Regions from separate parts of the Homo sapiens genome. Here regions 1, 2, 4, 5 and 6 are each linked to region 3. Evidence: fine-mapped expression QTL. A gene starts in region 3. Each other region holds a variant in brackets. All regions are shown on one strand. Distances are from middle to middle.

Region 1 (5,076 bases), 42 kb after region 3:
TCTGAGGGCTCTGTTCTGTTCCATTGATCTATATCTCTGTTTTGGTACCAGTACCATGCTGTTTTGGTTACTGTAGCCTTGTAGTATAGTTTGAAGTCAGGTAGCGTGATGCCTCCAGCTTTGATCTTTTGGCTTAGGATTGACTTGGCAATGCAGGCTCTTTTTTGGTTCCATATGAACTTTAAAGTAGTTTTTTCCAATTCTGTGAAGAAAGTCATTGGTAGTTTGATGGGGATGGCATTGAATCTATAAATTACCTTGGGCAGTATGGCCATTTTCACGATATTGATTCTTCCTACCCATGAGCATGGAATGTTCTTCCATTTGTTTGTATCCTCTTTTATTTCCTTGAGCAGTGGTTTGTAGTTCTCCTTGAAGAGGTCCTTCATGTCCCTTGTAAGTTGGATTCCTAGGTATTTTATTCTCTTTGAAGCAATTGTGAATGGGTGTTCACTCATGATTTGGCTCTCTGTTTGTCGTTATTGGTGTGTAAGAATGCTTGTGATTTTTGTACATTGATTTTGTATCCTGAGACTTTGCTGAAGTTGCTTATCAGCTTAAGGAGATTTTGGGCTGAGACAATGGGGTTTTCTAGATATACAATCATGTCGTCTGCAAACAGGGACAATTTGACTTCCTCTTTTCCTAATTGAATACCCTTTATTTCCTTCTCCTGCCTGATTGCCCTGGCCAGAACTTCCAACACTATGTTGAATAGTAGTGGTGAGAGAGGGCATCCCTGTCTTGTGCCAGTTTTCAAAGGGAATGCTTCCAGTTTTTGCCCATTCAGTATGATATTGGAAAGTCAACAAGGATACCCAGGAATTGAACTCAGCTCTGCACCAAGCGGACCTAATAGACATCTACAGAACTCTCCACCCCAAATCAACAGAATATACATTTTTTTCAGCACCACACCACACCTATTCCAAAATTGACCACATAGTTGGAAGTAAAGCTCTCCTCAGCAAATGTAAAAGAACAGAAATTATAACAAACTATCTCTCAGACCACAGTGCAATCAAACTAGAACTCAGGATTAAGAAACTCACTCAAAACCGCTCAACTACATGGAAACTGAACAACCTGCTCCTGAATGACTACTGGGTACATAATGAAATGAAGGCAGAAATAAAGATGTTCTTTGAAACCAATGAGAACAAAGACACAACATACCAGAATCTCTGGGACACATTCAAAGCAGTGTGTAGAGGGAAATTTATAGCACTAAATGCCCACAAGAGAAAGCAGGAAAGATCCAAAATTGACACCCTAACATCACAATTAAAAGAACTAGAAAAGCAAGAGCAAACACATTCAAAAGCTTGCAGAAGGCAAGAAATAACTAAAATCAGAGCAGAACTGAAGGAAATAGATGCAAAAAACCCTTCAAAAAATTAATGAATCCAGGAGCTGTTTTTTTGAAAGGATCAACAAAATTGATAGACCGCTAGCAAGACTAATAAAGAAAAAAAGAGAGAAGAATCAAATAGACGCAGTAAAAAATGATAAAGGGGATATCACCACCAATCCCACAGAAATACAAACTACCATCAGAGAATACTACAAACACCTCCATGCAAATAAACTGGAAAATCTAGAAGAAATGGATAAATTCCTAGACAAATACACTCTCCCAAGACTAAACCAGGAAGAAGTTGAATCTCTGAATAGGCCAATAACAGGAGCTGAAATTGTGGCAATAATCAATAGCTTACCAACGAAAAAGAGTCCAGGACCAGATGGATTCACAGCCGAATTCTACCAGAGGTACAAGGAGGAACTGGTACCTTCCTTCTGAAACTATTCCAATCAATAGAAAAAGAGGGAATCCTCCCTAACTCATTTTATGAGGCCAGCATCATCCTGATACCAAAGCCGGGCAGAGACAGAACTGAAAAAGAGAATTTTAAACCAATATCCTTGATGAACATTGATGCAAAAATCCTCAATAAAATACTGGCAAAC[C/T]GAATCCAGCAGCACATCAAAAAGCTTATCCACCATGATCAAGTGGGCTTCATCCCTGGGATGCAAGGCTGGTTCAATATACGCAAATCAATAAATGTAATCCAGCATATAAACAGAACCAAAGACAAAAACCACATGATTATCTCAATAGATGCAGAAAAGGCCTTTGACAATATTCAACAACCCCTCATGCTAAAAACTCTCAATAAATTAGGTATTGATGGGACGTATCTCAAAATAATAAGAGCTATCTATGAGTCCTGTTTCTTTATCCAATTTGCCAGTCTGCCTTTGAAGTGAGGTGTTTAGCCTGTTTACATTCAAGGTTAATATTGATGTGTGCTGATTTGATCCTGTCATCATGTTCTTGGTTGTTAGGTAGACTTGATTGTGTAGTTGCTTTACAGTGTAAATAGTCTATGTACTTAAGTATGTTTTTGTGGTGGCCATTAGTGGTCTTTCACTTCCATATTTAGCACTCCCTTAAGCAACTCTTGTAAGGCGGGTCTAGTGGTAACTAATTCCCTTAGCATTTGCTTATCTGAAAAAGATTTTATTTCTCGTTCACTTATGAAGCTTAGTTTGGCTGGATATGAAATTCTTGCTTGGAATTTCTTTTCTTTAAGAATGCTGAATATAGGCCCCCAATCTCTTCTGACTTGTAGGGTTTCTGCTGAAAGGTCTATTGTTAATGTTGTGGGGTTCCCTTTATAGTTAACCTGCCCCTTCTTTCTAGCTGCCTTAACATAATTTCTTTTGCATTGACCTTGAAGAATCTGATGACTATGTGTCTTGGGGATGTTTGTCTTGTAAAGTAGCTCACAGAGGTTCTCTGAATTTCCTGAATTTGAATGTTGACTTATCTAGTGAGGTTGGAGACATTTTTGTGGATAATATCCTCAAATTTGTTTTCTATGTTGCTTGGTCTCTCTCTCTCTCTCTTTCAGGGGTGCCAATGTGTTGTAGGTTTGGTCTCTATACACAGTCCCACATTCCTCAAAGGTTTTGTTCATTTTAAAAATTCTTTGTTGTTTTATTTTTGTCTGACTAAAATAGTTTGAAATTAAAATAATTTGAAGAACTGTGCTTTGAGCTCTGAGATTCATTTCTCAGCTTGGTCTATTCCACTGTTAATACTTCTGATTGTGTCATGAAATTCTTTTAGTGAGTTTCTCAGCCCTATCAGATCAGTTTTGTTCTTTCTTAAAATACCTATTTTGCCTTTCACCTCTTGAATCACTTTACTGGATTTCTTAGATTCCTTGGATTGAGTTTCAATTTTCTCCTGAATCTCAATGATCTTCAATGCTATCCAGATTCTTAATTCTATGTCTGTCATTTTAGCCATTTCATTCTGGTTGAGAACCATCACTGGTGAAGCGGCATCATTGTCTGGGGTAAATAACCAAGGTTCATCATCTCATGCCAAGGAAATCAAGTATGCATATGCAAGAGGTAGGTTTAGGGGCGGAGGTTTAACAGGCAAAAGAAAGAAAAAGGAGAACACTTCTCTCTCCTGCTTTAGAGAGGGGTGCCCAAATGGGACTTCTGGCCCACAGTGGAGTGCTCAGGATTTTATAAAAAAGCTTGAGGAGGCGGTGTCTGATTTACATAGGACCCAAAGATTGATTAGACTAGGGTGACATTTACATAGCATGTGAGGAAGCTGGCTTCCCCACCCTAATCTTATTATGCAAATGGGATATTTGCCCTGTCAGCGCCATGTTGTCTTCGCCTTACTGTACATATGGTTTGGCAAAGAAAAGGAAAGAAGGAGCTGACATTTTGAACATGCCTAGTCCCCAGGTAGCTCCTTTCCTACTGGCATAGCTGCCATCACTTCCCCGTGCAAACTTCTAGCTTGCCTTTCTATGTCTGCAGCTCGATTTTACAGGTTGCTCTTTGTTAGAAAAGAAAATGATTTGGGGGCTGCTTTTCATTAAAAGGAAAACCTTACTAAAGACTTTCTTACCTCACTGTCTGCCTAAGTAATTTCTTTTTAACTCCTACATCATTGAGGAGCTAGTGTGGTCATTTGGGAATAAGAAAACACTCTGGCTTTTAGAGTTCCCTGCGTTTTTGCTCATCTGTGTGGGCTGATGTGCCTTTAACTGTGGTGTAATTTGAGTACAGTCAGTTGAATTTGTTTCTGGATGTTTTCAGAGGGCTGATGCTTTGTGCAGGGTCTTTATTTGTGGCTGAATTCTTGTCCTTAATTTTATGGGGAGGTATGTTAGCAATGTATTTTTGGTGTTAAAGTTTGGGCTTCCATCCAGTAGATGGCACTTAACCGTAATGGCTGGTAGATAGGCTCTTACCCAGCCACATGGTTCCTCTGTATTTCCTCAATTGCAGCTATGCTCTCTCTCAGTGCTCTGAGAGTGTGGGCCCCTCTCCCACTCAAGTGTTGGCCATATATCTCAGCTTGGCACTCCCAGGCTGTGCACTGTAGCCCCTTTGTGAACTCAAGCTTTTTGTTCTCTCCCTAGCTTGGGGGTGGCAGGGGTGGGGACCTTGACAGTGGCAATGGCAGAGGGCCTTTCACTTGTCTTTGAAGGATTCACCCCAGAGAAGCACAGAGCTGCTACCAATCAAAATGATCAGCTGGGGGTGGGGCAGCTGCATTGTGGGCCTCAAGCCAGGCGGCCCTTCCCGGTGAAGAGCTGGAGGATTGGAGGCTTGCTGTAAAATCAGTCTGGCCTCTTCTCCATAGAGCAGCTGTGGCATGGAGGTGTGAATAAAGCACTCGGGCTCTTTGTTCCTTGCCCAGTCTGGTGGCAGCAAGGGTGGGCATCCACTGCAGTGGCAGTTATAGGGGGCTGTCAGTTGCCTCGGGGAACTCCACCCCAGAAAGACATGGAGCTGCTGCCAATGAGAACATTCAGGTGGAAGTAGGATGGCTGTGCTGCAGGTCCAAGCCAGGGGATGAAGAGCAGAGAGGTCAGGGGCTCACCAGGAAGACAGACTGGACTCCTTTGAATATGGTGGCTTCAGTGTGCTGGAGGTACAAGCAAAACAATCAGTGTCTTCATTCACTCCACAGCACAGTTTGTTTAAAATAATAATAGCAACTATGCATTCAATTATGTATACTTATGTGTATATCTT
Region 2 (5,076 bases), 20 kb after region 3:
GAAAACATACTCTTTTCTTTACTCACTGGCACATCTGAGCACACACATTAACCCTTCCTCACCTGAGACAAATTGTAAAGAATCTACATGCGCCTCCATATATGCGCACCTCTTCCCTCCCCTTCTACCCTCTGCCATTGCAGTCAGGGAAGACAGTGGCTAAGATGTGCAGTGTGTTACCTTTCCCATGAGTACTTGCATTTTTAAACTTCCATTTTCATTTTGGTAGAGACAATGCGTGCTTCCCTACATATGCTCTCATTTCCTTCTCGGTCATGCTGGTAAGTCTGCAATGCTAGTTCCTGACAGGCAAGGTCATGTGATGTAGTCTAGCCAGTGGCCTGTGACTAGAAATGGCACCTTCAGTTTCTAGCAGGGGGTCTGCCACCGCCACATTCTCTTTTCTTTACTACCCTTAATAATCACAAGACAGAAGGAGCCTGGATCTTTGAGTCACTGGCTCGAGCTAGCCCTAGTTAACCTGCATGGGCCTTTGTGTGACGGACAAATCAACCATCAGTGTGCTACGCCACTGGGATTTGGCAATTTATTTGTTCCTCAACATATTCTTATTAATTCCTTCTAATACATTTACATAAAGAAATATGTGTTCATCAGAGACAAATCAAAATAAGAAAAAAATCAGTACTTTGCTGTTCAATATATCCTCACACGTTTTTCTATAAGTGTATCCATACAAGTCAGAACCAATTGTATCCGTAATAATTCCATGTTGCTGCATGTTACACAAAACCCAAGTAAGAATGGTTTAAAAGCATAGTGGCTTAATTTTCTCTCGGTGAAAAGAAGTGTGAATGTAGGCAGTTTGAGAATGGAGTATCATCCACAAAATATCATCAAAATCCTGCCTGCTCAAGCATTTTCTCCTCAGGGTTGTGTGGCCTCAGTGACTTTACCTGTGATTAAGTATCCAGGAAAATAAAATCAGTATGGCATGGTATCACCTGGGGTAGGCATTGACAACAGCTGCTTGGAGTACCAAGGATCAGAATAGGCTTCCTGAAGAAAGTGGTGTTGAAATGACTCCCGTTGTGTTCCCCCACAGAGGGAGCCTGTGCGATGACCCTGTCGTGAGAGGGGCCAGCCCACTTTGGGAAGCTGTGAGGAGCTCGGTGTCGCTGCAGCTGGGTACAAGGTCAGCAGGAGGCAGATCTGGAGGAGCCTGGGAGAGGTATGAAGAACTGGGTATACAGCCTGAGGGCAAGCAAAACCACCGCAGCCTTCTACTGAGCAAAGTGACTGCTCATTTTTACATTTTAGAAACCCTACTCTGACTGGGACTGGAGAATGGGTTGAAGGAGAGAGGACAGGATGGAAAAACAGAAAAACTGGGGGAATCAAAGTGAGATGGGTGGTCTGCTGCAAGACTGAAGGAAAAACAGAAGAAAGTATATGGATCCACAAGAGGATTAGGAGGTACCTGACAACACATTTACACCAGTAAAACTATTTAAACCTGCACATCAAATTAGATATCTTTATGTCTTAATAGATTAAATATTTTTCCTATTACTCATCACTTCTGCATGTTATAATGCTTAAACAAAACCAAAAATGGGTCGAGTGTGGTAGCACACGCTTGTAATCCCAGCACTTTGGGTAGGCTGAGGTGGGTGGGTCACTTGAGCCCAGGAGCCAGGAGTTTAAGACCAGCCTGGGAAAAATAGTGAGACCCTGATTCTACCAAAAAAAAAAAAAAAAAAAAAAGTTAAAAAACAACAAAAACGTTAACTCAGATTATGATCTGATTAAATATATAAATATATGCTATTTTTTACTTGTTGCGTCTTATTTATTACGTACTAGTTCAGAACTTCATGGCTTTCTCCAAATATTAATGTTATTAATATTTAAATGCTTAAACAAATATTAATGTTATTAATATTTAGTGAGAAATGTAATTGAAATATGATTTCATTGTTTTTGAAATCTTGATTTAATATTGTGTGATGGAGTGATTCAAATGCCTGCTTCTAAGTTTTAAATTTATTTCAATGCTGAAAATACTTTCTCACAAGAAAATGCCATTTAAAACAAAAGATATTTATCTTTCAGTATCTTCCAAAAATTATGAAAAGACTTTTGTTACAATTACTCTGTAACTTTTCAACATCCTAAAAAATCTAAATTGCTTTTTCTACCAAATAAATGGGAGGGGTTTGCATTTGACAAATGACTTAAAAATGTAACTTTTGGGGAAATTTTTTAACACAATAGAAAATTTGTGATGCTAAGGTATTTTAAGGGTGTAATTGTGAGCGGGTTTATAAGTCATGCTCATTTTCACTATTAAGCCATGTTAATTATAGAAAAATTTCAAATATTGGTTTTCATACATTTCCACCTCCTCACCATGAGTTATTTCAAAAAGCAGTAATTTTTTCACTGTTTCAAAACATCACTTTAATCTTGGGGGAATAGATAATGATGATAATTTTTTCAAATATACCTCTTAGATAGCAAAATTTAGACAGCCACGTGTCCTCAAATTTAAAACATTTTATTTTTACAAAATAAAAATGAACTTTGCCATGAGATAACCAGTAAATAATATTCTGTAACCATTGGTTTGCGAGTTGTTTTGGAGTGGACATACCAGTTTATCAGCATTGCTCAGGAATAATAACTGGATTTAGACCTATACCACCTGGTTTTGCTGGAGCCCAGGGATAAGGAGGGAGAGGGAGCTTAATGGTCAAGGCTGACCAATAGCTGGGATGTTCCTATGTGACCAGCTCCTTGTAGGAGACACTCAACAAACCTTGAGCTTCCTGGTACCTTTGCATATGTGTGGTGGTTGAAAAACCAGAGACAAAGTGTGTCCGTGCGAACTGGAAACAGGAGGACGAAAAGCCATTGAGGACACTACTGATGATGCATATGATAACCATTAATAAATTAGCACTATCTTTTCTCATATTTCAGATAAGAAAATCAACAAAAATATACATGTATTTTTCTTTGTG[T/C]AGCCTCATAGGTTTATATTGCACACCCCAGGCAAGGCGTACACAACACATTGGAGACTACTGGATATGAAAGATACTTAGGAAATACCTGGGCTGGAGATATAGATGTGTTGATAATCAGCACATTAGGGGAATAGAAGCAGAGGAGATGGCCAAGAAATTTGTGTAGTTTGAGAAAGTGAGGGTCCAGGAGGATACGCTAGGAACATCAACTTTCAGGAACAGGTCATGAAAGTAAAGCTGATGAAGGAAAATGAGGAGGAACAGCCAAAAAGGCAGGAGAAGAACCAAGAAGTGATGTCATAAAAATCAAAGAATGAGATGCTGCTGAGGCAGCAATACTATTGCCAAGTGTTACAGAGTGGCCAAATAAAACAAGATCTGGCCAAATAAAATGTCACTCACGTGGACTGAGCAACAAAGATGCCAGTGGTGATCATAAGAGTGTCTTCAGTAGCGTGGTCTGGGAAAGTCCCTTGAGAGACTATAAAGACAGGAGGTGGAGACAGAATCAGCAACTATTTCCAGAAGCGTAAGGGTGAAGAAATGGAAACAGAGAAGAGACAGTTGCCCAAAAAATGTGAGTGCTGGAGGGCTCGTTTTTCTTTTTTAAACAAGGAGGAAGAAGTTTGACTATAATACTATATTTAAATGCTGATTTTTAACAGTCAGGAGAGTAGAAGTTGAAGAAATAGAAGATGGGAGGTGCAGGTGAAGAAAATACGTCAGATGAGAGGAGGGGCGCTTCCTCTAGCATGACCGAAAGAAAAAATACAGCCTTTCCATATATTGTTTTTCTCCATTTTATGTATTTAAATAGCTTATATTTTCAATAACTTTTCTAGCGTCTTTATGCAAATTATTTCTATTACAAGCATCTTTGAGGATCCCTGTGGTGCAAAAATGTTACCATTTTAAAAATCCATATCCATTGGCCGTGACTTTATCCAGTCAATCTGTAATCACAACTATTTAAAAATTTGTATGAAATGCAAGAAAAAATAACAAAGGATTAAAGCATCCAGTTTATGCTCATGTAAACAGTCCGCAGTAAAAGTAACACATCTCATTTGTAGTTGTTCACGCAAAATAATTTCAGGCTTCATTGGAGAGAAATCTACATATCACTGCCTGTTAAGCTCCTTTCTTATCGTATATATGTGTGCATGTGTGTATCTATAGATAGATATACACACACATGTATATACACACATACATGTATATGTAAGATATGTATATACATATATAAGATAAAAAAGACAGCTCTTATAATACACATGTATATAATATATATTCTGTGATGTTATACATGTTATATATTATGTATTTTTATCAGAGGTGACTTTATCAAACTTTCATTTTATGTTTATACTATTTCAATGGCAACACTAATGTCACTAGTAGAAAATGGTCAACTGGGATTGGTTCAGGTATGAGTTCAGATTTCAACCTTTTTTTCTGTTTTCTAAAGGGAAAAATGTTAGGAAATTGCTCAGCTTATTTCTTCATTCATTTATTCCCTGGCAAATATTTATTGAACAGCAAGGCATTATTCTAGAGCATGAGGACACAGAGAGAAGTATAATTTAGTTTTCTCTCTTTATGATTTCCCTGTCTGGTACTATGTCATAGCTTGCCAAATGACAGTCACTGCAATAGAGGCACAGGTAAGATGACAGGGGAGTTGGTTAAGAGGAGTCTCATAATCAGTCTGGAGATAGAAAAGGAGCATCCTGAAATCCTGGCATATGAGTTCTTGCAACAGATGCATAGGAGTAATTAATCACTCCCGCCACTGTCCATAAAGGACTAGAGGTAAGACTAGAACACAATAAGGTGGAGCTGAGCATGGAGCATAGAGGGAGGAAGATGGAGATAAAGGGATTTTGGGGGAAGGGACTTCAAGGTGCAGCAGGAAGTAAGTGTAGTCACAGGGATGGGAGAGCCAGATGTATGGAGGTGCCTGTGGATTTGATGCTTTACCTGATGTGAGGAATTCATGTGAGGGCATGACAAGCCTGGAAAGGCAAGCTTGGCTGCAGCATAGGGAGTGCAATAAGCCTGATAATAAATTTGGGCCTTATACAAA
Region 3 (5,076 bases):
AGGTTGCATTGCTCTGCAAGGTCCACACCAGGCTTGGTAAACATCAATCACTAGAAGATGATGATATTTATGAAATAACAAAGTCTACCAATCTAGGATAGCAGTTATCCCAATCTGGAGCCATGGCCAGGGCAAAGGCACTGCAGGATTTCTTGGTCAAAGTGGGGACTCTAGAGGGACAGGGTGCCAGGAGGAGCTCCGGGTCAAACCCCAGGTGGCCAGACAGCCGGGGAGTCCTTATACCTGTTAAGCCTTTGTTCTGCAACATCTCATCCCACAGGCTTTGATTATTGATGACTGTCTGCAAAGTGGAAGGCACTGTAAAAGGTATTCAAGCACTAGTGCACCAGATAAAGAATTGTTGATATGTCAGACCCACCTGTAACTGGACTTCTCGTTTTTTGCTTGCCATTTATCTACTATCATAGGAAAAAGAAAGAAAAATTTTTAAGTAGGAAATTTAAATAACATTTTCTTTATGCATGCAAATAACATCTTTTAAAACAATTTTTAATTTTTGTGGGTACATAGTAGGTGTATATATTTATGTATCTCTGTATTTATGTACTTAAATATTTGTGTATTTAAATCTGAGATATTTTGATACAGGCATGCCATGCATAATAATCACATCAGGGTAAATGGGGTATCCATCACCTCAAGCATTTATCCTTTGTGTTACAAACAATCCAATTATACTCTTTTAGTTATTTTAAAATGTACAATTTAGATTTTTTGACTGCAGTCACCTGTTTGTGCTAGCAAATACTAGGTCTTATTCATTGTTCTTTTTTTTTTTTTTTTTTTTTGAGACATAGTCTCACTCTGTTGCCAGACTGGAGTGCAGTGGCACAATCTGGGCTCACTGCAACCTCCGTCTCCTGGGTTCAAGCGATTCTCCTGCCTCAGCCTCCAGAGTACCTGTGACTACAGGCACCCGCCACCACGGCGGGCTAATTTTTTTTGTATTTTTAGTAGATACAGAATTTCACCGTGTTAACCAGGATGGTCTCAACCTCCTGACCCGTGATCCTCCCACCTCAGCCTCCCAGAGTGCTGGGATTACAGTATTCATTCTTTCTAACTGCAAATAACATCTTAATGTACTAGTGAAAAATTTCCCCACTGTACATTGGATTATGCAGTGTCATCTTTGCTGGGGAGAGAGAAGCTAATGTCATGGAAGGACTATTGTATGCTAGGCTCTATGCTAAATGCTTATAGCTGCCACACTATCTTATCCTCCCAACAGTCCTGAAGCAAGGTAAGAATGTTAGGAGTTACACGTCGTCTGGTTTTTTTAAAGGTTTTGTTTTCCTGAAATATTAGAAAGTGTTTCCTATATTATCAATTGCAAACAAATGAACATGCCCGTGGATCTTTCTGGGGTCCCTCTTCAGATCTGGCTGCTCTAAGGATATTTAATCTTGAGAACAAGGCCACTAGTGTTTTCTGGGGCACGACATAAACTTCTCAAACTCCCTATTCAGTGGTATCAGGGGCGGTGTAGAACAGGGGTCAGTCAGCGTGCGGGCGATAGTGCACGCTAGCGTACAACAAAGGAAAAGCCACAAACAAGACTGTATTCCAGGAAAGGTGCTGGTTGCTCCGGCAAGCCTTACACAAAACAGGTCCTCCTCTAAGCTAGACTGGGACGTTTAAAGAAAAGGAAGGAACAGGCCCAGAGGATCTAAATCGGCTCCCTCGTTGTGGCCGTTTGAGCGGTGACCTCGGCGAAGTTCCATTCCAGTACCTAGGACCCTGGTAGGGCCCGAGGCTGAGGCTAGCAGGCCTCCTGCTGGGCTTTCTTCTCCAGCTGATTCAGCAAAAGGAAGAAGAGGGATTCCCTGCCTGTCTGGGAAGAAGAAGGGGGGCAATGTTTTGTCCAACCCATCTGCCCGTGAGACTTGAGCGGCGTCTCGAGGCCCCTGCTCCAGACAGCAGCTATACCTGGGCAGTGGGGACAAGACCAGGTGGCGCCTAAAATCCTCCACCTCTTCTGCCCACACAATGAAGGAACAACGAAGTCCTGGTTCCACCATCACAAGACTCTGTTCTTCAGCTGCCTCATCCCCAAACTCCCATCCCCCATCCTCCCATCCCTACGTTCCTCTATCCCCAGATGCGCACCAAGGTGCGCTTTCCCAAGTGCAGATTTGATCATATCTCTCCTCGCCTTTGAATCCTCCTGTGACTGGCCACGCTTTACAGCATAAAATGCATACACCTCAAATCGGAGCAGAAGGCTCTCTGCCAGCACCAGCCTTTTCTTTCTTTTTAACTTTGTCTTCATCTACCCTGGTTTGGTTCTTCTTGTTCTTCTTGTTCTTCTTCTTCTTCTTCTTCTTCTTCTTCTTCTTCTTCTTCTTCTTCTTCTTCTTCTTCTTCTTCTTGTTCTTCTTCTTCTTCTTCTTCTTCTTCTTCTTCTTCTTCCTTCTTCTTCTTCTTCTTCTTCTTCTTCTTCTTCTTCTTCTTCTTCTCTTCTTCTTCTTCTTCTTCTTCTTTCTTCTCTCTTCCTCTTCCTCTTCTTCTTCGTCTTCCTTCTTCTTTTCTTCTTCTTTTCTTCTTCTTCTTCTTTTCTTCTTCTTTTCTTCTTCTTCTTTCTTCTTCTTCCTTCTTCTTTTTCTTCTTCTTCTTTCTCTTCTTCTTCCTCTTCCTCTTCCTCTTCTTCCTCTCCCTCTTCCTCCTCCTCCTCCTCTTCCTCCTCTTCCTCCTCCTCCTCCTCCTCTTCTTCCTCCTCTTCCTCTTCTTCTTCTTCCTCTTCTTCTTCCTCTTCCTCTTCTTCCTCTTCCTCTTCCTCTTCTTTCTTCTTCTTCCTCTTCTTTCTTCTTCTTCTTCCTCTTCTTCTTCTTCTCCTTCTTTCTTCTTCTTCTTCCTCTTCCTCTTCTTCTCCTCCTCCTTCTCCTTCTCCTTCCTCTTCTCCTTCCTCTTCTCCTTCCACTTCTCCTTCCTCTTCTCCTTCCCCTTCCCCTCCTTCTCCTCCTCCTCCTCCGTCTCCTCCGTCTCCTCCATCTCCTTCATCTCCTTCTTCTTCTTCTTCTTCTCCTTCTCCTTCTCCTTCCTCTTCTCCTTCCTCTTCCCCTCCTTCTCCTCCTCCTCCGTCTCCTCCATCTCCTTCTCCTTCTCCTTCTTCTTTCTCCTTCTTCTTCTTCTTTCTTCTTCTTCTTTCTTCTTCTTCCTCTTCCTCTTCCTCTTCTTCTCCTCCTCCTCCTTCTCCTTCCTCTTCTCCTTCCACTTCTCCTTCCTCTTCTCCTTCCTCTTCTCCTTCCTCTTCCCCTCCTTCTCCTCCTCCTCCTCTGTCTCCTCTGTCTCCTCCGTCTCCTCCGTGTCCTTCGTCTCCTTCGTCTTCTTCTTCTTCTCCTTCTCCTTCCTCTTCTCCTTCCTCTTCTCCTTCCTCTTCCCCTCCTTCTCCTCCTCCTCCTCCGTCTCCTCCGTCTCCTCCGTCTCCTCCGTCTCCTTCTTCTTCTTCTTCTTCTTCTTCTTCTTCTTCTTCCTCTTCTTCTTCCTCTTCTTCTTCTTCCTCTTCTTTTTCTTTCTTTCTCTTTCGTTCTTTTTCTCTTTACTTTCCTTCCTCCCTCCCACTTGCAGCATCTGGAAATAATTTTTCACAATAGTTTCTGATTAATCCACAGGCTGAGATACAGAAAGCAACTGTAGAGTAGAGAGGGACACAATGAACCTTTTTGTAGGGATCCTCATCCCTGGAGTGGACCTAATAGATGAGCACGGCTACCTACAGAAGGATTTTTGACCAGGATCATATCCTATCAAGACAGGACATGTAGTACTCCTTCACTTCACCATCTGCAATTTTCTTTCCTTTTTTTTTTTTTATTATACTTTAAGTTCTGTGATACATGTGCAGAAAGTGCAGGTTTGTTACATAGATATACACATACCATGGTGGTTTGCTGCACCCATCAACCTGTCATCTACATTAGGTATTTCCCCTAATGCTATCCCTCCCCTAGCCCCCCACCCCCTGACAGGCCCCAGTGTGTGATGTTTCCCTCCCTATGCCCACGTGTTCTCATTGTTTAACTTCCACTTATGAGTGAGAACATGCGGTGTTTGGTTTTCTGTTCTTGTGTTAGTTTGCTGAGAATGATGGTTTCCAGCTTCATCCATGTCCCTGCAAAAAACATGAACTCGTCGTTTTTTATGGCTACATAGTATTCCATGGTATATATGTGCCACATTTTCTTTATCCAATCTATCGTTGATGGGCATTTGGGTTGGTTCCAAGTCTTTGCTATTGTGAATAGTGCTCCAATAAACATACATGTGCATGTGTCTTTATAATAGAATGATTTATAATCCTTTGGATATATACCCAGTACTGGGATTGCTGGGTCAAATGGTAACAAAAGCCAAAATTGACAAATGGGATCTAATTAAAGAGCCTCTGCACAGCCAAAGAAACTATCATCAGAGTAAACAGGCAACCTAGAGAATGGGGGAAAATTCTTGCAATCCATCTATCTGACAAAGGGCTAATATCCAGAATCTACAAGGAACTTAAACAAATTTACAAGAAAAAAACAAACAGCCCCATCCAAAAGTGGGCAAAGGATATGAACAGACACTTCTCAAAAGAAGATATTTGTGAGGCCAACAAACACATGAACAAAAGTTTTTCATCACTGGTCATTAGAGAAATGCAAATCGAAACCACAATGAGATACCATCTCACACTAGTTAGAATGGCGATCATTAAAAATAGTCAGGAAACAACAGATGCTGGAGAGGATGTGGAGAAATAGGAACGCTTTTACACGGTTGGTGGGAGTGTAATTATTTCAACCATTGTGGAAGACAGTGTGGCGATTCCTCAAGGGTCTAAAACCATCTGCTATTTTCAAAGAAGTTTTATGTATTTCCTATAATTGCTATTTCACCAGAGTCAGACTGTTAGTAAACTGACTTTTGATTCTTCTTTGATTCAACACAATAGTTCACATGGTGAAATGCTCATGCAAATATTTCAGGCAAATTCTTCATATAACACTTTGATGCAAGAAGTTTCAATGTATTCTCAAATTAGAACAAACATTTACCAGTGGCCAATACATGGAA
Region 4 (5,076 bases), 250 kb after region 3:
ACTTGGTATTTTTGAACTTCAATGTACAAGTGACATTTGCATAAGATCTTTTTAAAATTTACTATTTAAAAAAAAATTAAATAAAACCTGTTGCTATGGACTGAATTGTGCCATCCTAAAATTCATAAGTTGAATCCCTAATCTGCAATGTGATGGTATTTGGAGAAAAACGGATGGTAACTGGAGCCTTTGGGATCTAATTAGGTTTAGGTGAGGTCAGGAGGGTGGGGCTCTTATGATGGGATTAGTGGCCTTATAAGAAGAGACACCAGAGAGACTCCATCCATGATATTTTGTTATGGCAGACTGAGATGAGTAAGACATCTATGGAGGAATAATTTGTTCATCTTGATGTCTCCTCTCTTCCTCTTGGTGTCCCCTATGAAGTCTGAAAAAGCTAACTTGTTCACTTGGGGATTTTTGCTCTTCTGAGGCATAAATATCCTAAGTTTCATCAGGAGTCTTGAAACCCACCCCTTAATTTTCTATTTCTTTCTTTTCTATATTTTTAATGTGTGTGGCTTTTTAAGTATGCACCAACACATCTCCCCAGGATTATTTTTAATGCTTTTTAGTGACCTCAAGACTTTTTCTTTAAAAAGGCATTACCTTCTACAGGCAACAATAATTTATTGTACATTTCAAAAAAACTAAAACTGTATAACTGGATTGTTTGTAACACAAAGAAAAGGTAAATGCTTGAGGTGATGGATACTCTGTTTACCCTGATGTGGTTATTATGCGTTGCATGTCTGTGTCAAAGTATCTCATGTACCCCATAAATATATACAAAATATATACACCTACCATGTATCCACAAAAATTTAAAATTTAAAAAAATAAATAAATCAAATAAATAAAAAATAAAAAGAAATGATCTTAAGGTGACCAATTTGTCTTGGTTTGCCTAGAACTTTTCTAGTTTTAGCACAGAAAGCCCTACATGCCAGGGCACCCCTAGCTAGCCAGCAAGCAGGGATGGCTGGTCACCCTGCATGCCCTTCAAAACAAGCCTCCAAATGAGCCCCACACATATTTAGTGTTCCATGAATATGTGTGAATCCACAATTCTCCTCTATTTAGAAAGCCACATTTTTTTCTTTCTATTAAATAGTTCATCTTTTTCAAAGTACAACTCTCAATAATATATGTTGGTCCTGCTCAGCCTTTATTGTGATGCTGCTGCTGCTGAAAGGATGGTTGCTTACCAGCTATGGTGAGAAGTGTGAAAAGTGAGGCTCTCACCATGTCGTAGCTCCTGGCTCATGTGTTGTTGGTGATGAGATGTGCCTCAGCCAGGACATACCTCATCGGTGGCACAGGATGATTTCCAGCCAACCGATGCTACATCATAAATATGTGGATATGCAGAGGATTAAATCTCATACAGCTAGGATGCTGGTAGACTCCACATCCATAGTTACTCTCTGTAACAGGACCAGAGTGTCCCTGATGATAACATAACGGTGACCCCAGCAGGCTTTAGAGGCACCACAGGGTGGGGTCAGAACAAAGTTTAGTATGAGTTTAGTTTATAGTTTAGTTGCTTAGCTTAGTTTTATCTATACCAATGCACTCATTCACATTTTGTACCAAATTGTTGTTCCCCACTCTTGTGCCCTAGTTTGAACTAACATGTTCAGGGAGCATGTATCATGTTCTGGGATGCTATAGGTAGGAGTCAGCACACTTTTTCTATAAATAGCAAGATAGTGAGTATTTTAGGCTTTCTGGGCCATATGAGCTCTGTTACGACTATTGAACTCTGCCATTGTAAAGCCAAAACAGCCATAGGCAATACACAATGAATGGGTATGACTGTGTTCCAATAAAACTTTATTTATAAAAACAGGCAGCAAGCCAAATTTTGCCTGTGGGCTATAGCTTGCCAACTTGCAATCTAGTGAAACATAGTCAGATGCAGACTTCTGAAGCAAACAAATGTTAAAGTATTTTTGGGGATTGTAATAGAGAATCCAGTTTTATCCATCTTTAGACTGCTAAAGATTTCAAATCATTATTTAGAAAGCCATATTAGTATTTTTGGGGATTGTAATAGAGAATCCAGTTTTATTCATCTTTAGACTGCTAAAGGTTTCAAATCATTATTTGGAAAGCCACAATTAGATCTTGATCTAATTGTTCAACTTTGGGGGCCACTCCAGAAATTTCACCAACACATTGCCACACTTCTTGACCAGGGGCTTTTGGGAGCGTGAGTGCAGATCTTCTGAAGCTCATCTGGGTTAAAAAACAAAAAACTCTCTGCACTCTTTGAGTATATAAACTGGGCAGAGCCCATGTTAAAATCTTTTGCCAGGCTGGTGCAGTGGCTCATGCCTGTAATCCCAGTGCTTTGGAAGACCATGATGGGGGGATCACTTGAGGCCAGGAATTTAAGACTCCATCTCTACAAAACAATTTTTTTAGTTAGCCAGTTTTGTTAGCC[C/G]GTTTTGTGTTCCTATACGGGAATAACTGAGTCTAGGTAATTTATAAAGAAAAGAGGTTTATTTGACTCACAGTTCTGCTGGTTGGACAAGAAGCATGATGCTGGCATCGGTTCAGCTTCTGGTGAGGACTTGAGGAGCTTTTACTCATGGCAAAAAGGCAAGGGAAGCTGGTGTGTCACATGGTGACAGAGGGAGCAGAGAGAGAGGAGGAGGTTGTGGGCTCTTTTAAACAACCGGCTTTCATGTGAACTAACAGAGTGAGAACTCACTCATTACCATGAGGACAGCGCAATGCCACTGGTAAGGGATCTGCTCCCATGACCCAAACCTGCCCACTAGGCCCCCCTCCAACACTGGGGATCACATTTCAACATAAGATTTGAAGGGGACAAGCATTCAAACTGTATCACTGGGAGTGGTGGTGTGAGCCTATAGTCCTAGCTACTTGGGAGGCTGAGGTAGGAGGATTCCTTGAGCCCTGGAATTTGAGGTTGAAGTGAGTCATGATCACACCACTGCACATTCCAGCCTGGGCAACAGAGTGAGACCCTGTCTCTTAAAAATACGTATATTTAGCCAGAATAAACATCTCATCTAAATGTTGCTCTAACACTTTTCAAATTTTGCCTTTAACTTAAAGGTTCTCATTTCTTCAACTGTTACATAGTGGGCCTTGCCAATTGTTCTCATGTCTGGTGCCATGCACAAAAATGTTCCAAGCCTCTTTGGAATTTGCCTCAATAACATCTAGGGACCTGGGAGGGTTGACTAGGAGGCTGAGTGTTTGTAGCCAATCATAAAATCTTGAAGGCCACTTGATATGGTTTGACCATGTCCCCACCCAAATCTCATCTTAAATTGTAGCTCCCCAAATTCCCACATGTTGTAGGAAGAACCCAGTGGAAGATAATTGAATCATGGGGGTGGTTTTCCCCATACTGTTCTCATGGTAGTGAACAAGTCTCACAAGATCTGTTGATTTTACAAGAGGTTTCCCCTTTTGATTGGCTCTGATTCTCTCTTGCCCAGCACCATGTAAGACATGCCTTTTGCTTTGCTTTCTGCCATGATTGTAAGGCTTCCCCAGCCACTTGGAACTGTGAGTCCATTAAACCGCTTTTTCTTTATAAATTACCCAGTCTCGGGTATGTCTTCATCACCAGTATGAAAACAGACTAATACAACACTTAAACTCACCCATTTTAAGTGTCAGGGTCTTGGTAAATCATTCAACAGTCTCTACCTTAACTGAATCATTGTGAACAAAATGGACTCATTATATAAAGGCTTTTTAAAACTCACACTTTTTGAAATGTTGAAACCTACTCTCTGTTCAATTTCTCATCCCTTTCCCCAAAATGTTCCAAAATAAAAGAGACCTCCATTTTGGCTGCCAGTGGCTCCCCCAAAATAATAAATTTCTTTTAATAGTAACTTCCTTTTAACATGTGCCACAGTTATGTTAGAAAACTTTGTCATAAAAATAAGCATCTTTATTCACATAAGTTAACTCTAGGGGAAAAGCACCTATTTATCACATGAAGGAAGGTTTTTTCAGACAAGACCCATCTTGGGGACATGTCCAGACAAGCTGCAATGCAGTCGCTTTGGTCAGGTGGCTCCCTGGGGATGTCTACTCTGCCACAGCTCTGCTTTAATGATCTTGCAGAATGCTCCCATAACATCTGCCAAAACATCAAACTGAGCTGTGAAATTGTTGCAAACTCCTGTACGAGTTTGTCTATAAACAGTCCAGATTTGCTATCATAAAATTAACAGCTTCCCTAGTAAAACACAACATCTGCATCAGCCCCAGCAGAGCAGGTATTTTGAGTTTGCCTCCTCCTCCTCACTAGGTGCCAGGTAAAGCAGTTCTGAGCCCCAGATTATATGGCCATCCACCAGAAGGTATTTAGAAATGACCTGCTCAACCATGGTGAGCAGGAGATGGTGGAGGCTGATGGTCCATTCACACTGTCAACCATACCTAGGTTCTTACTTTCTTGGTCAGCCATAAAACCTTAGCATAGAAAAGGAAATGACATGAAACAAATGAATTCCTACAAAAAGTTAAGCCAACCCTATTAATATATAAAACCCACCTCAACTGGAGTTTCCTGCACACCAGCTTTACTGATACATCAAAGCCCCAGATAATAATTTGTTGCACAGTCAGGGGCCAACCTCTTGAAACCATATCGGCCTACTTTTCCTTCTGCAGTGAGTTCTGGGAGACTTTTTCTTTCTGTCTCTTAGACCACTAACTCATCTTTACCCAAGGCAACTACCCTATCTAATCTACCTATTGTTTGTTTTTAATTGACCAGAATTCTGTCTCATTCTTGACAAGTTATGAGCCCTCTTTTGTAAATATTTTCTGTTGCATCCCCCATTAACTCTGCTTCCTCACATAGTTCTTGTGTTTTCATAATATTGGTGACTCTGTTTACATTAGTAGTTTTCTAAAAATTTTTGGAGATTTTGGACTGTATGCTGCTATTTTAAGTTGATGGTTTAGTTGACCACAAATGTACTTTCATTATCCAAAGAGAATTCCTATTCACCTGTGTGTGACTAGAAGTCCTGACTATGGACTGTGGTGTTTGCTGAGAGGAGGGGCCAGGCA
Region 5 (5,076 bases), 310 kb after region 3:
ACTGCCAAGCACCTAGTATGGTAGTTCTAATCATTACTCAAAATATAGTCAAAATGTAATTAACAACGCCTGTACAACTTACAAAATCAGATTAGCTGGAGTGTGGGGGTGAAGGGAATACAGTTTATCACACAGTCCTCCAACCCCTTCTCTGTTATTTGCCTTTTTGTATCTTGGGTCCCATGATAGTTTTCCTCTGCTCCTTTCCTCAACATTTGATTCTAATTTACTTGTAGCGTTTTCCCCTAGGGAAATGTCCTATTCAAGAATAAGAAAAGCATCAGGAGTTACCATGAATTCCTACTGGGATACCTTGCTTAATTAGAAGACACCACTGTAAATCCATTACTTCCCTTGCCCTTTACTAGCTGACCTTGGACAAATAATTTTCTCATACTTTTTTTTCCTCTGTAAAATGGAAACAACAGCAGCTATCTCATAGGGTCATTGTAGAGGCTTCGACAGAATATTGTATATGGCCCCTTGAATATTGTAAATTGGAGTCTTCTGCCTCAGAATCCCCCCATCAATGTCCCTTTGCTCAATTGCATCAAATAGGCATTATCCTTGGGAGTAAACAGACCAAGCTAACAATGAATTCTAGCCTTATTTCTTCTTTTTCTTTTTCAAACTTGAAATGCTCACTCCTATTTTCTCAACTTTTCTCCAAATTGTAGCAGCCCAAAGAACTGTTATTGGAAAAGCTGTATCAAATATAATGTTTTTGAGCTGTTCTTTTTTAACAACAGGTCTAAATGGGAGAATTTCAAATTTCTAAGGAAGTCAGCATTTTAGCCACTCAGAGTTGGATGGGAATGGCTCTCAAGAAATGGAGGCATATAAAAAAGAATGAGATCCTGTCATTTACGACAACTTAGATGGAACTGGAGAACATGATGTTAAGTGAAATAAGCTAAGCACAGAAAGATAAATGTCACATGTTCTCACTCATGGGCAGGAGCTAAGAGAAAAACATAAGTTGAATTCATAAAGAGTAGAATGATGGTTACCAGAGGCTGAGAAAGATAGCAGAGAGGGGAAGACAAGGTGGGGAATGTTAATGGGTACAAAAATACAGTTAAGACGGAATGAATAAGGTCTGGTATTCAGTAGCACAATAGGGCAACTATAGTTAACAATAACTTATTATATATTGTAAAATAACTAAAAAAGTAGATAATATGGTTTGGCTGTGTCCCCACCCAAATCTCATCTTGAATTATAGCTCCCATAATCCCTATGCCTCATGGGAGGGACCTGGTGGGATGTAACTGAATCACGAGGGCAGGTTTTTCCTGTGCTCTTCTCATGACAGTGAATAATTCTCACAAGTTCTGATGGTTTTATAAAAGGACAGTTCCCCTGCACACATTCTCTTGCCTGCCACCATGTAATACATGACTTTGCTCTTCCTTCGCCTTCCGCCACAACTGTGAGGCCTTGCCAGCCATGTGGAACTGTGAATCAATTAAACCTCTTTCTTTTATAAATTACCCAGTATCAGGTATGTCTTTATTAGCAGCATGAGAACAGACTAATAGAGTGAAATTGGAATCTTCCTAACACAAAGAAATGGTAAACACTTGTAGTGATGGACATTTCAATTACCCTGATTTGATCATTACACATTGTATGACTGTATCAAAACATCACATGTACCCCATAAATATATACAACCATTATATGCCCATAATAATTAAAAATAAAATGTAAATGATTAAAAGAATTTCTTAATTTATTTATATATATTACTTTTATAATGTATAAAAGTAATAATTACAATAATTGTTAAAAATAAATGGAGGTGTTAGGAACAATACTCTGGCAGGATCACAATGAGGTCTGGAGAGGAGCTCTTTCTTTCCCCTTTGGAACTCAAATCACCCCAATCCAATAATCAAAAGCAAAATTGCCAACATATGTTTTGTTTTCCATCACATGATGTTCAATTTGGGCCATGATAATATTTCTAAAATCCCATTTAATAGAAATTTTGTTTTATATGAGCTAACAGATGGATCCTGAAAGCTATGGAACAGAGTGGCTGTACAGTATGTCATAAGTCACACTGGTAGGGTGACAGGCTCCAGGTTTCTATGTGGCTTGGGAAGCTATTAAAAAATATGAAGAAAATCAGTTCAATATTAGGTGTTTTTAAAGTCAAAAAAATCCTGATTTGGAAATCTACAGGCTGTTCATCTTATTTTTTTTTTGACATGGGAAATGAAATGTTAAAATACCACTTGAATAGACAACCACCTTTCAATTATCTCATCCTCCATGGGCCCCAGTTTCCTTATCTATGAAATGAGGCTCGTTTTGGGTCAGAAGTGGCAGAGATTTCATTTTGTGTGCTATCCCTAACCCATGACAGCAGCTACTGAGGCCTGGACTGAGAGGTCTGAAGCTCTGTATCAGTCACGGTTCTCCAGTGAAACAGAACCAATAGAACGTGTGTGTGTGTGTGTGTGTGTGTGTGTGTGTGTGTGTGTGTGTGTGTGTGTGTGTGATTTCTTATAACGTATTGATTACAGAGTCTGAGAAGTCCCAGGATCTGCTATTTGCACTCTGGAAACCCAGGAATTCCAGTGCTGTGTTTTCTGGAAACCCAGGAATTCCAGCACTGTGTTTTGAAGGCCTGAGAGGTGGAGAGCCAATAGTGTAGATTTCAGTCTGAGTTCGAAGGCCTGAGAACTAGGAGCAGGCGGTAGACTGATGTACAACTCAAGCAGTCAGACAGAGAGAGGGTGAATCCAACCTTCCTTCACCCTCTTGTTCTATCCATGCCCTCAATGAACTGGATGAGGCCCACCCACACTGGGAAGTCTGCTTTCCCCAGCATACCAATTCCAATGCTCATCAGACATCTGGGCATCCTGTGGCCCCATCAAGTTGACACAAAATTAACCATCATAGATAGGCTCTGTCTGAACTGGTGTCACAGTAGATAATTA[G/A]TATCTGTTAGGAGTCTAGGGCAGAGTCAGTTAGAGTTGTGTCAATCATTTGTAACACATGTGAATTAGATGGTCACTGATGTCCTTTGCTTTCTCCGTAGGTATTGAGTCTGATTTGCCTACCACAAGATGAAGGGCACACGTGGAGGGGGAGAAGCAGAAGATCAGATTGGAAAGCCCGAGAGTCATCTGGAGGTGCCCTAAGAGTGTAGCTTTGGATAACAGACATCCTGAAAGCTGGCTTGCCTGCCACTGAACACCACATGCAAATTCAAGCCCAGTGAATATGTGTGGTCTCAACTGAAACCAAAAAAAAAAGTTTTTTAAAAACCAATACAGATTTAGGCCCTCACAATTCTCTCAGCAACTGTAATGGGTTGAATGGTGGTCCCCAACATTATGTCCATTTCCTAACCCCTGGAACCTGTGACTGTGACCTTCTTTCAAAAAAAGGGTCCTTGCAGAAGTAATGAAGAGATCAGATCATTCTGGGTTACCCAGGTGGGCACTGAATTTAATGACGAGTACCTTTGTAACAGACAGAAGAGGAGAAGACACATGAGGAGGAGGAGGGACTGTGGCCACTGAGGCACACTGGAGCCATGCATCCAGGGAAGCCGAGGCATGCTGACATGCACTAGAAGCTGTCAGAGGCAAGGGAGGGTTCTACCCTAGAGCATTAGGAGGGAGTGAGACCCTGCCAATAATCTCATCTTTCAATTCTGGCCTTCATAACTGTTTTAAGCCATCAAGATGGAGGTAACTTTTATGGCTGCTGGAGGAAACTAACACAGCAGCCTACAAAGGCAGCAGAGCAGCTCAAGCTTGGCCACAGGAGGAGTCAGGCCTTGTGCATAGGACATGGGCTCAGATCCCTACCACCCTTCCCAACTCCCCTGCTCTGCAGATCCCCTCCTTACACAGGATCCCCCAAGTAATCAGCACCCCCTGCCTGCCTTCCTTTGGGCCTTGCCCCTCATCTGCGCCATCTCCGCCCTCAGACAGCCTCACCCAGGCTGCTCCTTGGGCCTACCTTGACCTCGGCCAAGTTCTCTAGTCCAATTCAGCTGCCAGGCTAGTCATTAATCATAATTCTATTTGCGCAGGATGCACATGGCCATGTCGGAGAGTCTGCCAAGCTATGCTCCTTCTCCTTTATTACCCAAGTGACAACTTGCAACTGCACACACAACCCTGCCAGCACTTGGCAGCTGAGGAATGGAGCAGGAGAGGCAGGGAGCACGCCAGCAAGTAAGTGCCCTGGAATAATGTCCGACAAAGAACCTTTCCTCTTCACACCGCAGGGTGAATTTGGAATTTGGTTAACAATCATTTATTGTATGTGGTCCAACGCTGGAAGAGAGGATTTTGAATGTTCCCAACACAAAGAAAGGATCGATGTTTGAGCTGATGGATACGCTAATTACCTATTTGATCACTAAACATCATATGCATGTATGGAAATACTCTGTACCCCATAAGTATGTATAATTATTAGGTGTCAACTAAACATATAAAAAAAGAAACTTTCCTCTCCCAACTTGCAACAGATAATGCACAAAAGGGGTCATTTCTTAAATGTCATCTTTATAGCCTCTGAATTTCAATCCACAGGAAGAGCATTCACAGTAACAACAAGTGGTAGAAACCATTCACATCTTCAGACGCTGTTGCCCCTATCCTATCTTGTTCTAATGATGTATACTGCTTGCACACACCAAGGAAATCTAAAATTCATCATATAGCCAACCATATCCCCTACCTTGAAACTGGTACATTCCACCTCCACTTCTCATTTCATCCACAGCCATTTCTTTACATTGAGACCTCACCTGGAAAAATAGAACCAGCTGTCTTGTAAGCTGGGTCTTCCCCCACTGTCACAGAACATGGCAAGGGACTAAGATGTCATCTGGCTCCTGTGTTATGATGAGAAATGTGAGGGAAAAAAACTAGGCCAAAAATTCTGCTTGCTAGGTATTATGAAACAATACTGTATATTACTAGAGTCTACTCTTGGCCATGTGTGTCAAGAGTAGTGATGTAGACCAATACTTAAAATCTGGGAGACACCAGTTTTTTGTTATAAGAAAGAGATAATTAGAGCTTCCTTGCATAATTA
Region 6 (5,076 bases), 300 kb after region 3:
TGCAAAGCCTGCCTCAGGAAAGCAGCCTTATTTAAAAAGAACTATATGAACGCTACTGCCTTTGTGTTTTCCTGGGTCACTAGCCTAGGCGACCACAATTGAGAAAATGTAAAGAAGTCTACCCCCAGCTCATTTTCCCAACCTGGTTATCTACCCAACTATCATTTGTATTCTTGACTCAGCCCTCCCGCTGACAGCTCTATTCAGCCACCTTAGCTTCTATTCAGTCTCTTGGACCCAGATCTCAAATCCCCTTTGGGGCCTTTCTTTGTTCATTCCTACTACAGGGTCGAGGACCTGTTCTGGATCTACTCTGTTCCTGGAATCTCTGCTTTCCATGCATTGTCTGCAATGTTTGGCCTCCTGTGAACAGGACTCAATGACCTCTGTCCCTTGCATCACTTTGCCACCCCAAACGTGCACAGCCAGTGTGAAAACCTTCAGGAACAGAATCCTTGCCCTGTCACTTCCTCCACAGTCCCAACTCTCACAGAAGTTTCTTGTCAGAGAGGCAAGTTCCAATTCTTCACTTTGGGGGAAGCCAGTGCTCTCTCTGCCTTGTTTCTGTAAGGTCCTCTGAACAGGCTACACAATGGTTGAGCCATTGTGACTCCTGTGACCCACACATACAGGCCTCCTGCAGTCACAAAGCCTGGAGCAACAAGAGAAGCACTAAAGGAGAAGAAACAGCTAGTTCCTGCCTTAACTGATTAACCAACCTTGCAACAATCCACCAATGTGATATATTCCTGCCCTACCCTAAATAATCAATTGACCCCGTGATATCGTGCATTGTGACCTCCTCCCACCTTGTGACTATGCACCCTGTGACATTCTTCCCCTGCCCAAAAAAACTGCCCCTAACTATAACTTTCCACTACTTACCCCAAACCTATAAAACCAGTTCCCCTCCCACCACCCTTCGCTGACTCCTTTCTCGGACTCAGCCCACTTCCACCCAAGTGAATAAACAGCCTTGTTGCTCACATTTAGCCTGTTCAGGTTGTCTCTTCAATTAGACATGTGCATAACAATTTCTAGAACTTTGGATCATCAGAAAGAACCGTGGAAACACCACTGGTCTAAGACCAACCAGAGCCCTCCTGATTCTGAGCAAGACAACCTTGGAGTCTTTTGTTTGCAATAAACTGCAAACTTCAGAACTATAATAAGAAATAGAGACTTATTCAAGGTTCTCACTCTCCCATGCCCTATTAAAGGAAGTACCAGGAAATATTTAAATAGCACCTGCACCCCTGGATTGAGGCTTCTTCAGCTGCAGAGCCATCTAACTCCAGAGATGCTAGAGCACCGATTAGAGCCACCAAAACTCTGTGAGTCATCAGAACAACTCATACCAGGGCAGGGCACCCGTCTCTGCACTCTTATTATTTCATTCAGGCCAAAAGTTACAGTCATAATCTTGTCTTATCAGATTTGGGACACTCTGGAACAAATGTCATCCTAATTTTGGTAGAAACATAAAAGCAAGTAAGCATGATTTATAAACAAAGGGCTTTCAGCCTAGGATTTGCAAAAGTTCTCCTTCACTTTTATAATTTAGTCTATCTACAGAGGGACATTTAGACCTTATTGAACCTTTCCAAAAATTCTGCAACTAAGAGTCACAGCCTGTTAATCCTATCTGCTTTCTTGGAGTCAGGGGGTCTCTTATAACCACTACATGCCAGCAGGTGCTGTTCTAGGAAAATCTGCCTTCTTTGAGGAGCCTCTTCCCCCATACCGTGCTCTCACATGTACACCCCTGTAGTCTATCTCAGTGACTGGTGACCTCTTCCTCCTGGGCCAGAGTCCTTCCCCCCGGGTGGTATAAATAAAGCTCAGAAGAGACAGCTCTTCCCTCTCCTGAGATAAGATTCGAAAACTTTGAGTTCAGAACCACCAGCTTCCCCTGTGTCACAGGGCAAACCCCAAAATTGGGGTCAGCCCAGGAAGCCAAGTGGGTCCTTAGCTATATGCAGGAAAGAATTCAAGAGCAAGCCAACTGAGTAAAGTGAATACACATTTATTAAGAAAGTAATGCAATAAAAACGTGCCTACTCCATAGGCAAGGCAGCCTTGAGGGCTGCTGGTTGGCTATTTTTATGATTTATTTCTTGATCATACGCTAAACAAAGTGTGGATTATTCATGAGTTTTCCGGGTAATTTATTGGGGGTGGGGA[T/G]TGGGGTGCCAGGTTGCCATGGCATTTGTAAACCCTCATGGCACTGGTGGGAGTGCCTTTTTGCCTGCTAGTGTGTTATAATTAGCATATAATGAGCAGCAAGGGTAACCAGAGGCCACTTCTGTTGCCTTCTTGGTTTTGGTAGGTTTTGCTCAGCTTCTCTACTGCATCCTGTTTTATTGGAGGGGTCTTGTGTCCTGTGTCTTGGGAAACCAGTGCCGCCAAACTCCTCTCTCTCACCTGTGCCCACTGCATATCCCCAGTTTACCTGCAGGAGGAGAGAATGAACACAACACAAACAAGAGCAGTGGAGGTTGAGTGACCCTGCGGGTGCCCGAGGTTTCGGCATGAGAAGTTCTCAGAAGAGCCCTGGGCACAGCCTTCCCCAGGTTCTGCTTTTAGGTGCTGTTTTTCTATTCTGATGGTGGTGTTGACTTTCTAAACCACCCTGATCATTCCAATAAATCTTTTCATGTTTAGACGGACTCAAGCTGGTTTTCTATTACCTGGAACTCAAAGAATCCTAACTAACAAATGGCCCATAATTTATCTTCATCATTCAAATAATTACTATGTGCCAAGTATTACATCAGACCTTGAGGAAATGTGGATAAATAGGTTGGCCTCTGCCCTTAAGGCATTCAGAATCCAGAGGAAAGAGGCATGGAGTAGCACTCCTTTCCCTGAGTTCCCAGTTCCTGGACTTCCCACCTTGCATGCCAATGAGTTGTGCACGGGACACTCCACCCCACTCTGTCCCCCGGGGGCAGTGGCTGCCCTTTTTGCCCCTTAAATTCCCATTACCTATGGCAATCATAAAGACCCTATGAAGCCTTGTTATGGGAATAAGTGAAATGCAGTAATAACAGTAATGCTGCTTTATGGTTTTCAAAGCGCTTTCAGATAAATCATCTCAAATGTCAAGAATATGCAGTTTCAGGGATCTTTATAGCACAAAATTGACGTTTTCTGGGCATCAGAGCCAAATAAAAACAACATTCAACTTCCTTCCTTTTCTTATCTAATCTTAATTTGGCTTTCTAAATAGGCTTCCTGCCTATGAAAAGAATGGGCTGATGGTGGGGAGCTGGGGAGCAGGAAGGGTGATAAAGGTACCTGGGTAACTTGGTCACATTTTCTGAAAATCAAATGAATTGGTTTCTGCTGAAGAGAAATGTCAGGGCCTCAGGTACCCAAAGGCCTGATCCTCTGTGAAAGAAAATACCATCTCGTGATCCCAGACTCACTACACCAAAGGGAAAGTTAAGCTTGGACAATAGAAGGCCACATACCTCCCCAATGGCCTCCTGCAGAAATTGCTCACAAGGAAATTCCCTGTGAGCCCCTAAATCTTTTAGGACAGCAGTCCCCCAGCCTTTTTGGCACCAGGGACCAGTTTCCTGGAAGACAATTTTTCCACGGATTGGGGCAAGGGGGAGGCATGGTTTTGGGATGAAACTCTTCGCCTCAGATCATCAGTCATTAGTTAGATTCTCATAAGGAGTACATAACCTAGATCCCTCACATGCGCAGTTCACAATAGGGTCCGTGCTCCTATGAGAATCTAATGCCACTGCCGATCGGCCAGGAGGTGAAGCTCAGGCGGTAATGCTCCCTGGCCCACAGCGCACCTCCTGCTGTGTGGCCCGGTTCCTAATAGGCCACCGAATGGCACCCGTCCATGGACTGGTGGCTGGGGACCAACCCCTGCTTTAGTATATATATCACCCCATAAACTAACCCTAAAACCAAATTCTGTTGAATTACTTTCTGACAATGTCAATTGCTTGTTTAATTTCACAGGACAAGGACAAGACCAGAAATCATCCCTCTGTCTACCCTGAGATGAATGTATAACTGGCTTTTCCCTCTATTCCCTCTTTTCACATGTTTGCTTTAGCTTTTTGTTTGTTTGTTTTTGAGACAGGGTCTTGCTCTGTCACCCAGGCTGGAGGACAGTGGTAAAATCATAGTTCACCGCAGCCTTGATCTCCTGAGCTCAAGGGATCCTCCTGCCTCAGCCTCCCAAGTAGCTGAGATTACAGCCATGTACCACTGTGCCTGACTAATTTTTTTTATTTTTTAACACTCAGGGTCTTGCTTTGTTGCCCAGACTGCTCTCAAACTCCTGGGCTTAAGTGATTCTCCCACCTGGGCCTCCTAAAGTGCTGGGATCACAGGTGTGAGCCACTGCACTGGACATTCACTTTATGTTGTGTAAAGTGTACGATTTACTGAGTGGAAGACGATATATAATTGACTTTTTCTCTAGCCCCTCTTTTCACATGTAAACTGTAGATTTACTGAGCCTAATCAGAGCCTCCCAAGAATGTAACCACCTGCCTCCTCTTCCTTTTTTTTCTTTCCTGCTTATTGTTTCCCCTTTACTGATGTTCCCAAAACCACCTTTGGAAAAAGCACAGGTCACAGATGCTCCTGTGACTTGTATTTTTTCCCAGGCACATCCTTAACCTTGGCTAAATAAACCTCTATCTATTGAGATCTGCCTCAGTCACTTTTTGGTTAATAGCCCCAAGAGTGAGCTGGCAACCAAAGTTCAGGGTCTGCAAAGCCAAAGCCTCATTCATTCAACTCATTCAATCCACGAGCTCTATTGCATGCCAATTTATACCAAGCACTATGGTAATGCTCATGACTATACCCACTCTCATCAGGATTTTACCACTGAGTACAGTGGTTCTTGAATTGACCTGTGCCCTGGAATCACCTAGACAGCTTTTAGAAATACTAATCCCTGGATCCCACACCCAGAGACTAATTTATTTAGTCTGAAATCTGATCTGGATAGCAGGAGATTTTAAATGTCCCCAGGCAACTCTAATGTGTGGCCCAGGTTGAGGCCACTGGTCTCGAAGAGGAAGATGAAAAAGC

Alleles and levels. Positions count from the first base shown, and alleles are read on the strand shown. Sizes are in standard deviations (SD) of each study's normalised expression. Not every link is listed here.
As copies of T replace C in region 2, the expression in neutrophils of the gene that starts at base 2,082 in region 3 goes down (moderate effect, 0.44 SD a copy in BLUEPRINT).

What was found. PIP is the estimated chance that this variant, and not a neighbour inherited with it, causes the effect.
Region 1: its variant is the best candidate, but not a certain one, in a credible set for the expression of NME8 in whole blood (TOPMed, PIP 0.55).
Region 2: its variant is the best candidate, but not a certain one, in a credible set for the expression of NME8 in neutrophils (BLUEPRINT, PIP 0.51).
Region 4: its variant is the best candidate, but not a certain one, in a credible set for the expression of NME8 in whole blood (INTERVAL, PIP 0.76).
Region 5: its variant is the best candidate, but not a certain one, in a credible set for the expression of NME8 in whole blood (INTERVAL, PIP 0.57).
Region 6: its variant is the best candidate, but not a certain one, in a credible set for the expression of NME8 in whole blood (TOPMed, PIP 0.54).

What each region holds. Positions count from the first base shown.
Region 1 is chr7:37,803,685-37,808,760 of GRCh38, reverse strand. No RefSeq gene overlaps it. Among named protein-coding and RNA genes, the nearest start is that of NME8, 42 kb to the left of the region's middle. RefSeq lists an enhancer at 4,651-5,076. The variant C/T (reference allele first, on the strand shown) is at 1,969.
Region 2 is chr7:37,825,362-37,830,437 of GRCh38, reverse strand. No RefSeq gene overlaps it. Among named protein-coding and RNA genes, the nearest start is that of NME8, 21 kb to the left of the region's middle. The variant T/C (reference allele first, on the strand shown) is at 2,988.
Region 3 is chr7:37,845,603-37,850,678 of GRCh38, reverse strand. It overlaps NME8 (NME/NM23 family member 8), which reads right to left and starts at 2,082. Exons shown (of 18, transcript NM_016616.5): 1 at 1,951-2,082; 2 at 1,623-1,855; 3 at 380-419; 4 at 244-301; 5 at 1-50. The coding sequence starts at 412.
Region 4 is chr7:37,591,546-37,596,621 of GRCh38, reverse strand. No RefSeq gene overlaps it. Among named protein-coding and RNA genes, the nearest start is that of GPR141, 90 kb to the left of the region's middle. The variant C/G (reference allele first, on the strand shown) is at 2,450.
Region 5 is chr7:37,540,155-37,545,230 of GRCh38, reverse strand. No RefSeq gene overlaps it. Among named protein-coding and RNA genes, the nearest start is that of ELMO1, 94 kb to the right of the region's middle. The variant G/A (reference allele first, on the strand shown) is at 2,955.
Region 6 is chr7:37,547,340-37,552,415 of GRCh38, reverse strand. No RefSeq gene overlaps it. Among named protein-coding and RNA genes, the nearest start is that of ELMO1, 100 kb to the right of the region's middle. The variant T/G (reference allele first, on the strand shown) is at 2,185.